Homo sapiens: one gene and its partners. The protein of the gene in region 2 interacts with the protein of the main gene of each other region in a pairwise test. Each region holds a gene or a part of one and is shown on either strand. Other genes may lie near its edges. The genes, in order: PEX26, BMF and APBB2.

Evidence for each region.
Region 1: the proteins of BMF (region 2) and PEX26 interact in binary tests that used the Homo sapiens proteins (3 or more experiments, as listed by UniProt).
Region 3: the proteins of BMF (region 2) and APBB2 interact in binary tests that used the Homo sapiens proteins (3 or more experiments, as listed by UniProt).

What each region holds. Positions count from the first base shown.
Region 1 is NC_000022.11:18,101,862-18,105,924, reverse strand, and holds the end of PEX26 (peroxisome assembly protein 26), read right to left. Parts: 3' UTR 529-4,063; downstream 1-528. UniProt on the Homo sapiens protein: Peroxisomal docking factor that anchors PEX1 and PEX6 to peroxisome membranes. PEX26 is therefore required for the formation of the PEX1-PEX6 AAA ATPase complex, a complex that mediates the extraction of the PEX5 receptor from peroxisomal membrane.
Region 2 is NC_000015.10:40,087,319-40,089,719, reverse strand, and holds the end of BMF (bcl-2-modifying factor), read left to right. Parts: 3' UTR 1-1,830; downstream 1,831-2,401. UniProt on the Homo sapiens protein: May play a role in apoptosis. Isoform 1 seems to be the main initiator.
Region 3 is NC_000004.12:41,008,445-41,012,100, forward strand, and holds part of APBB2 (amyloid beta precursor protein binding family B member 2), read right to left. Parts: intron 1-3,656. UniProt on the Homo sapiens protein: Plays a role in the maintenance of lens transparency, and may also play a role in muscle cell strength. Involved in hippocampal neurite branching and neuromuscular junction formation, as a result plays a role in spatial memory functioning.

The DNA of each region.
Region 1 (4,063 bases), on a different chromosome or scaffold from region 2:
TCTCAGGCTTCAGACAGACTGGAACCACATCTTCAGCTCTTCTGGGTCTCCAGCATAACCACTGCAGGTCCTGGGTTTCCCAGCCCCTATAATTGCATGAGCCAATTCCTTATAACTCTCAAGATACCACCTATTGGTTCTGTTTCTCTGGAGAACCCTAGTACAGTCCCCTTTTTGTAGATGAGAAACTGAAGTTAAGCCTAGGCTGTTTATGAAAAAACAACCACCCATATGATTTAGGCTTTTTAAAGAAATTATCCACATCTACTGCATTCCAGTTACTATGTGTGAGTGAAGTTCTTCTTGTATGAATTTTAATGCTGTGGGGCCATATAACCAAATATAATTACAGTTATGGCCTAAATAGTTGAGCCACATTCATTAGAGCAGGAGGTAAGATAATTTCTATCAATCACCCAGGAAAAGACTCTTGGCGATATTCATTATCTGTTCAATATTCCCCAACACTGAGCACTTTCTATATGCCAAACACTGTGCTAATGGCTTTTATTCCTCACAACAAACCTCTGAAGTTAAATTTTTATTATCCTCATTTTACAAATGAAGAATCAGAAACATAGAAACATTAACTCTCATTCCTGATCACATAACTGGTAAGAGCTAGAGCTGGGCTATGCTTCAGAGAGTCTGGCTCCAGAGCAGAGCTCAACTGGATCTGGAAGGGCAAACCTTTCATAGAGAGGCTTGTCCTTGTTCTCTTAGGTTAGACTTCAGAGTTCCAATATCCAGGATGCTGCTCCAGGATGGTGGGTGTTACAGATGGAGGTCATGATGTTGAGGGAGGCTGGGAGCCCAGAGGATGAGACACAAGAAAGATCTCTTCATTTCCAGGCACCCCATTGCTGGGGTGAGCCCATGAAGTCCAGAGAGCAAACGATATCTTACCATTAGATTATCTAGATTCAGGTACTTGTCATATGTATTTAACTTTGGTTAGCCCCAAGTACCTTACATACATTCACCCATGTGTCTCAGATGCTGCAGGGGATTAAGGGAAGTTGAGGGTGAACCATTTTGGCCACTGGATCACAAACAAATTGGCTCGCCTTTAAGGTTTACATGGCTGCAGCAGCCGCAATCAAGAGATCACCAAAGAGGAGGTGAATCATGGGACAAATTCCCCTGGGAGGGGTGGAGCTTTAAACCAACATCAGGCAGATGCAAAGAACTCAGCAGAAACAGGAGGCAGTGAGAACAGGAGGCAGTGAGAACAAGAGGCAGTGAGCACTGGGAGCGGGAGTCAGTGACAGACTGTGCAGAGAACACTGAGGCTGGGAACTCAGGAAAACTCACCTCCTGTAAACAGGAGGAAAGGCCAGCCTGTGGCCTCGTGACATCCAAGGCTCTGTCACAGATGGGTAACCACCTTCCTCCGCTACCAGCTCCTAAAAGAACACCTAAAGAGGCGGGTGCGATGGCTCATGCCTGTAATCCCAACGCTTTGGAAGGCTGAGGCAGGTGGACCACCTGAGGTTGGGAGTTCGAGACCAGCCAGACCAACATGGAGAAACCCCGTCTCTACTAAAAATACAAAAATTAGCCAGGCGTGGTGGTGCATGCCTGTAATCCCAGCTACTCAGGAGGCTAAGGCAGGAGAATCGCTTGAACCTGGGAGGTGGAAGTTGTGGTGAGCCGAGATCGCGCCATTGCACTCCAGCATGGGCGACAGAGCGAAAAAAAGAAAAAAAAGAGCACCTAAAGGTCTGTGTGGGATAGACTAGGAAAGATGAAGCCGTCGGTCATCCCCTCCTGCTCTTGGTATTGTGTAGATGATTAACTGTTCCCCTTTCTGGGCATTTTCCTCCTAACCAACACTGAAACAACTGGTTGAATAGTCTCATTTTTTCCAATCACTTCACATATTGCTATGAGTATTGCAAAGTACCCAATCTTTCTGGACCACGTCCTGGCAGTATGTTGGAAGAGCAGAAAAACTGATCTCTATCAATGTTGTAGATCCACTTTCAAAAACCAGCCCAAGAGAAAAACCCAGAAAGAAAACAACTACTATCGTCTTAACTGTTCTACTCAGCCCTTGGTGATTTCACAGCACTTTCATATGCAATCTGTTTACAGCTATGTTATTCACAATAGCAAAAAGTTGGTGGTGGTGCATGTGGGTGTTGACCGGGCTGGGCCAAGAAGCCTCCTCCGGGCAGGCTGCCAGGCTCTCACTGTGGCTGTGGCTCTGTATGGGACAGAGACGGGGCTGAGCTGGCCGGGCTGTGGGCAGGGTGGAGGGCCACCAGCCAAAGGACAGTTGGAGGAATCGAGCTTCATGCTGTCCTTCTCTTCTGCCTCTGATACAGAATTTGATGTTGTGGTTGGATATATAGTACACATTATCATGGATGACATGTTCCGGTTATTATAGAGAAATTTTGTGGACAAGTATTACCAGGAGTTTGAAGACATGGAAGAAAATCAACTCACCTACATGCCTGCTTTTTGATAAATAATATTTGTACATATTATTGAAGTAGATGTGACATTTCATTACATGCATAGAATGTGTAGTGATCAACTCAGGGTATCCAGGATACCCATGACCTTGAGTATTTCTCATTTCTATGTGTTGAGAACATTTCAAATCCTTTATTCCGTCTATTTTGAAACACCCAATACAGTGTTAACAATGGTCACCCTATTCTGCTATCAAGCATTAGAACTCACTCCTTCTATCTATGTTTGTGTCCATCAAGCCACCTCTTCATCCCACATACACACCCTGCCCAGCCTCTAGTAATTGTCATTCTACTCTCTACCTCCATGAGATTAACTTTTACATGCCTTTTTTTTTTTTTTTTTTTTGAGATGCAGTCGCACACTGTCGCCCAGGCTGGAGTGCAATAGCACGATCGCACGATCTCGGCTCACTGCCACCTCTGCCTCCTGGGTTCAAGCAATTCTCCTGCCTCAGCCTCCTGAGTATCTGGGATTACAGGCACACGCCACCATGCCCAGCTAATTTTTTGTATTTTTAGTAGAGATGGGGTTTCACCGTGTTGGCCAGGCTGGTCTCGAACTCCTGACCTCGTGATTCGCCCGCCTCAGCCTCCTAAAGTACTGCGATTACAGGTGTGAGCCACTGCGCCCGGCTACATGCCTATTTTTAATAAATGTATTTACTTGACAGAAAAGTATCCTGAAGGACACCTACTGGAGCGGATTGCTGGATTTAGCACATGGCCTTCACAATATTAGGCATGATAAAGATGAAGGGGCTGGTGCCCTTCATCAGACAGAATTTGATGCTGTGGTTGGATATGTAGCAGACATTACCATGGATGACATGTTCTGGTTATTATAGAGAAATTCTGTGTACAAGTACTACCAGGAGTACTTGGTGCCATAGGCCGGGGACTAGACCTAAGCGATAGTTTAGCGGTGACTTTGTTGAGCAAATCATCTTCTATGCCAGCTTCCCCGAACAAGCTGTGGCACTAGATCCCACCTCCAGGCAAGGAAGAGGATCATCCTGGATGTCACCAGCCCACTGGCTTGGAGAGGCTGCAGCTATTGAGGATAGAACAATACATCTTGGAAAGACTGACTGTTCTGCAACTCATCATTCATGTTAAGTATTAAGGGTCAAAAACAAATGGCTTGATGTGTTTCTCCTGAAACACCTTCTTGTGTTTAGTAACCCTAGTACTCCTCCCATCTCTCAGGTGCTTTTGAATCAGACTGCTGTGGGGCAAACCCATGCCCAGCATTCCACCTGAGGCCCTTCTGCCAGCATACATTCAGTGTGTCAACAGTGTGGAATAACCCACTATCATGAGTCCTCTTTGTCCCAGCAGCTTTGGCATGAACTTTTTTTTCTTTTAAATGAAGAGACGCACATTTTAGTGATTTTCCTTGTGAAATTGCAAAGACTAGAAGAAAGTTAGACACTGACATCTCCATACCTGAATCTCTACCCACTCCATCTCACCCACCACCTGCTTCACAAACTTCCTACTCAACCACCTAAGATGAGACTTCTGGGCAATGTCTCCTCAGCCATCATCTGCCGTGATGTGTCACCCTCAATCATGCC
Region 2 (2,401 bases):
CACCAAAAAACCGGGATTATTTACAGCAGCCACTATTCACCCCTTTTGGCAGACTCTCCACCTGAGTTCAGTGAGAGAGAAAATGATTTAGATCTTGGTGCTGGGGCAAGGCCATCAGCTTCAGAGACCTTGCCAGGCCCAGGCTGGGTGCCCTGTGGCCTGAGAACTGAGCCCAGACTTTGACAAACCCACCTCAACATCAAGCCTGGGGCAGGTGGAAGGTGGTCTGACTGCACTGTCTCCATCTTATGCAAAGCCAGGAACTCACTCACTGTCTTAAGTGAGCCAGGGCAAAATTTACACCCCTCACGTTTCCCTCTCCCTTCTTCCCCACCAACAAAACCCAGGAGGTAGCTGGCAGAGTAGCTGTCAGGAAGGAGAAAGGTTCTTTCTGGCTGGTTGTTTTTAATTGGCTTAGTGATCTAAACTGGCCCCTTCCTCCTCTGCCTGGTGAGTTGGCCTAAACATTCCTCAAGTCTAGCCTCAGGAGACCTGCCCCTCCCCCCCGACCTCCACCCCCTCAGACTCCATCCCCCACCCCCAGGAGCCTGGCTGTCTCTAGCGAGGGGTGGAGAATCAGATTTAGAGGGAGGGAGAGTCTGACCTGGATCCTGACCTGTAACCAGCTGAAGACGGTGGAGGCTTTGTGGCTTGCTGAGGGTGGGGGTTGGGAGAGGGACTGGAAACCTTCCTCCTCGGGAAAGAAATGCCTGGGAGGAAGGGAAGCCTGATATTCAGGGTCAAAACAGCCCTTCTAATTCACAACCCCAAAGCAGGGGTTTCTAGAAGTTGGTCAACAGATCTGGTGAGGGAAGTCCCCAGGCCAGACGCTGGACTCCTGCAATGAGGGTGGAGGACTCAGCCTGGCCTCTGCCTGGCCTGTTTCAAAGTCTGGGCCACTGGCAGCCTTCTCTTGCTCAATCCGAGGTGGAAAAAGATCACCTCCCAGTGACCTCCCTCAGCCCCCAGGGGAGTAGGTCTGTGTCCAAAGCTATGTGGCAGGCTTGTTTGAAGGACCCAGAGGGGCCCAGCTGACCTGTCTCACTGCTCCTGGCAGCCCAGCCCCATCGGCAGGTGGCCCCTGCCTGGGGGTTATTCGGGATGGTTCAGCCAGGGCCTCCCAGGAAGAGTGCTGTGGAGCCACGGTGACTGTCCTGGACAGCAAGGAGCATGCTACCCCAGTGAGCACTTCTTTTTGAGGGACTTGATGGGGAGGTGGGGTAGGCAGAAGGGACGTGGCAGAAGCGGGAAGACTTTGGTCACCATGGCTCTGCAGGCCTTCTGCAAATCAGTGCTGGCCTGGGCTGGAAACAGCTCTGTGTGTGAAGGTGAGGACTCTTGGAAGCAGGCCATCCTGGCCAGACACCCTAGCAGGAAGGGGCTCACCTGTCACCCTTAGGCAGCCTGAGGGCTGGTGGGGACTTTTGAGTCTTGAGGGGATAGCGGAAAAAGCTGAGCTCATAGGTGCCCAGCCAGCCTCCCAGCTAAAGGTGCTCAGAGCCCCACTGCCCCCTCTCTCTGTGCAGGTGGCCAGTGCCCCTCCCTGCTCTGGGAGCATTGCTAGCCTTCTACCCCATCCCTGGATCCACAGGGGCTATCGAGGAGACCCAGTGAGAATGTAGCATTTTGTTCATCCCCAGGGTAGCTGCCCTGGGGTCTGGGCACTCTGCCTCTGGGAGAGAGGAAGAAGAAAGGGGCCCCATTTTTTAAAAAACTGTACAGAGCCTTTGGCTTTATGTGTTTATGTTCTTCACATGCATATGTGTGTATGTGTGTATATCTTTCCCCCCATCAATTGGTACAATTTTTAATAAAATCATTTAAAGCAAATCTGGTCTTTTATTTTTCAAGGTGTGGTAAAAATGCAAGGAGATCAGTTAGGAAATTAAAGCCTTCTAGCTTTCTCAGCTGCCAGCTTGAGTGACCTGAAGGCGCTCAGCTTTCGCCGTGATTTCCTTTCCCCTCTTGGAGTTGAGAAGAGTGATTCCGACCACCACGCGATAGGCAGCACAGCAGAGGCCCTGTGAGGGGGAAAGATGCAGGTTTTGGACCCGGTTCCCTCCTCCTCCAGCTGAATGATCTTGGGCAAGTTATGTCACCTCTCTGAGCCTTCAGTTCTTCCACGTGTGAAATACGACTGTGCCGGCCTTGCAGGATTAAAGGGAATGTGTCAAAAGGGCCTGTCTGCCACTGGGACCCAGTGAGGGAAAGGACCCCGGCAGCCCCTCCCGCACACACTACCCCACCCCTCCTTTCTATCAGGGTAGCCCCTCAGGAGGCAAGCTAGTTGTAGGGGGACTTCCTGGCTTGCATTTCTTTGTGGATTAACAATGTGTCTGATTCAAAGCGGTGATTTAAAGCTCTTGACAGAGTTCTGAAAATCCTTGGGAAAAACTACTCC
Region 3 (3,656 bases), on a different chromosome or scaffold from region 2:
ATTCAGTGTGTCATTATTTATTTATTAAGCTCACTTGCCATATTCCAGGCACTGAAAATACAAAGATGAAGATGAACCAACCCTTGCTCTTAAGGTCCAGAAAGTCGTAACTCAGAGTCCAAAATATAGGTAATTCATAATTAAGAGAAAAGCAAACTTTTATAACACACCACTGTACTGATACTGTCTCTAATATAATAATCATGAATATTCATTGAGCTCTTGCTATATGCCAGATACTGCTCCTAAAAGCTCTTTGAAGATGCTCTCGCTTAATCTTCACAGCAGGTCTATGCCAAAACACTCTTATCCCCATTTTATAGATGAGAGGCTATGAGAACTGCCTAGATATAGCAGAGCTGGGATTTGAACTCAGGAAGCTCACTCTAGAGCCTATGCTCTTAATGATAAGTTAATGGATCATGAGGCGCATTGCCACACCCATCTAGACTTGGGACTTGGTTTTCTCTGTGTATAATTCTGCTTTTGTACACTTTAGCAATGAATCTGATTTTGAAACAGTTACTACACAAGATCCATCTAGTTTCATACTCTGTGTCTTCAATTTTATTAAATCCCAAACTAAACATAAAATTACATGTGGGTACCACTGAAACCTGTACCCAGGAAGGTTCAAAATGATGCATCTTTTCAACGTTTTCATAAAGCAAACATGAAACACTAAGTGATTAACAGAGAGACTATATACAGTGTGACCAACAGGTATTTATTTATCTGAGCCATCATGCTTACTACCTGGGGCCACTGAGGGAACTGTATCTTTGAAAAAAACCCTAACTAGATTCAAAGTTCTCACTTTGCAGTAGCAAGATACAACCTTTCTTTTAGAATCAGGGCCAAGGCACTCTTTAACTTTTCTAAACTCCTATGAAAATAGTCATTTCACAGATGCTTTTCCTTTTTCAAATAGCCTCTTGTTTTCTTAAAGGACAGACTACAGAGGAGGAAAAGGGCAGCCACATATTGTATACATGATTGATTGTACAAAAAGAAGTTACTAAACAGCTGGAGGGGGCGATTCAGTAGTAAAGGAAAATAGAAAGTAGTCAGTCTCTAGGTTAGCCATTGCATTTTATTGTATAAATAGCATTCTAACTTGGAAAGGATGCCCCTGAGGTAGAAATGAGTCTATTTTTCTAGGCTCCCCAAAGTGCAGTCTACGATCCAAAGATAATTGCATCATGATTTAGTCATAAAACACACACCACTGTGATGACTATGTATTTAACACACAGCAAGTCAACAGACAACTATACCCTTTTTATACATGTACTATGGCATGGCATACTAAGATGTCACAAGATATTTGCTCTCGTTTTCTCTTTTCTTTCAACTGTTGGTATTTGTGTTTATTTTATATATATACACATACACATGTATATACTATATAAAACATACATAATAAACACTAACTTTATCATTACAAGTGAAACATACAATGTTTAATTTAGACTGATCATGATTATTTTAAACACTAACAGTATGTTTCACAGGAAGGATGAAATCAAAAGAAATACAATGCTAAAAAACTGCTTATTTTATTTCATTCACCAATCTATGTATTACCTGAAACCTGAAGTGTGATTAAAGCAAAGTGATTTCATTTCATGGGGATCCACAGCAGACTCTGAGGCAATTCCAAAAGAGGACTCCCAAAATTATGACTATTAATATTGAGACAGTGCAACATGCTGAAGCAGGTGCAGAGATCCCAAGTGAACATTTTGAAGGCTGGCATAGGTTTGGCTTCTAGTATATTTTTTAAAAACACAATCTCATTGCTTTTCGGTCACAGCTAATACATTTTTTCGAGCATATTTGATTTGAAATACCTATCCTCAGCAACTTATCAAGGGCCACCATCATCCTGTCAAAACCAACTTTCAGAGAGAAAACTAAGCATATCTTCTTAACATGTAAAAAAAACTCTAATCCAGTTCTCATCACAGGCCAAGCACTGTAAGATGTTCTGTGGAAACCCAACAGCAAGTAATGTCAGGACACTGAGCAAATGAGTGGTAAGTGTCACAGCAGAGGGGCCCCTGAAAGTCTTCCTGGAAAGAGGGAGTTAACGTGTACATTTCAAGAGTCCCAGTAGGTAGACTGGAGTGCACAAACTTTGCCCTCTCCACAGGCCCCTACTGACACCAGCACTCAATAAGCCAAGGGGCTATGGACAGAAATACCTAAATACTCATCAGCAGGGAACTTGCTAAATAAATCGTGGAACTTGTATATAGTGGAATAGTATACATAATACTTAAAAAGACTGACGTAGAAAAATGGACTGATCTACAAAATACGTTCTTACGTGAAAAAAAGCAAAGCATTCATAAAACAATCTAATTGGAGTAACTTTTTCCTGGTTTTAACTATTTATTGTGGCAAATTTTAAACATACAAAATTAGAGAATAGAATAATGAACCCGCACGTACCCATAATGCAGCTTTAACAATCAGCAGCTTATGGGCAATTTTGTTTCTTTTTTTATCCTTCTAATCCCAATTATTTTGGAGAAAATACCATACACAATATTGTTTCCATCAGTATGTGTTATACTGTATTATATATGTTATACTATGACATAGATTAGTATTTTATATTAGTATATATCTCTAAAACATAGGGATTCTAAAAACATCATCACAACATTTGGGTAAATTTTAAAATTGATTATTATTGTTTTTTTTTTTAATTTTAATTTAATTTAATTTTATTTTTAAATTTCTTTTGAGATGGAGTCTCGCTCTGTTGCCCAGGCTGGAGTGCAGTGGCACAATCTCGGTTCACTGCAACCTCTGTCTCCCAGGTTCAAGCAATTCTTCTGCCTCAGCCTCCCGAGTAGCTGGGACTACAGGCACGCACCACCACACCAAGCTAATTTTTGTACTTTTAGTAGAGACAGGGTTTCACGATATTGGTCAGGCTGGCCTTGAACTCCTGACCTGGTGATCCACTGCGCCTGGCCTAATTTTTATTTTTTGAGATGGAGTCTCGCCTGTCACCCAGGCTAGAGTGCAGTGGCGGGATCTTGGCTCACTGCAACTTCCGCCTCATAGGTTCAAGCAATTCTTGTGCCTCAGCCTCCCAGGTAGCTGGGACTACAGCCACCCGCCACCATGCCTGGCTAATTTTTAATGTTTTAGTAGAGAAGGGGTTTCACCATGTTGCCCAGGCTGGTCTCAAATTCCTGAGCTCAGGCCATCTCTCCACCTTGGCCTTCCAAAGTGCTGGGATTACAGGCGTGAGCCATCATGCCGGTCTTAAAATTTATTATTAATATGCGGATCTATGACTCAAACATTTTCTGAGAGGAAATAAAAACATAAGGTAATGGTCATCACTGGGAAAGGGGGCTGGGGTGAAGGGAAGAGGCAGCTTAATTATTCATTTAAAAATACATTTATGTTTTTTGAAACAGAGTCTCGCTCGATCACCCAGGCTACAGGGCAATGGCATAATCATGGTTAACTGCAGCCTCGAACTCCTGGTGTCAAGTGATCCTCCTGCCTCAGCCTCCTGAGTAGCTGGAACTACAGGCACATGCCACCGTCCACCATGCCCAACTAATTTTTTTGGAGGAGGAGAGATGGGGTCTTACTGGTCTTGAACTTGTGGGCTCAGGTGATCCTCT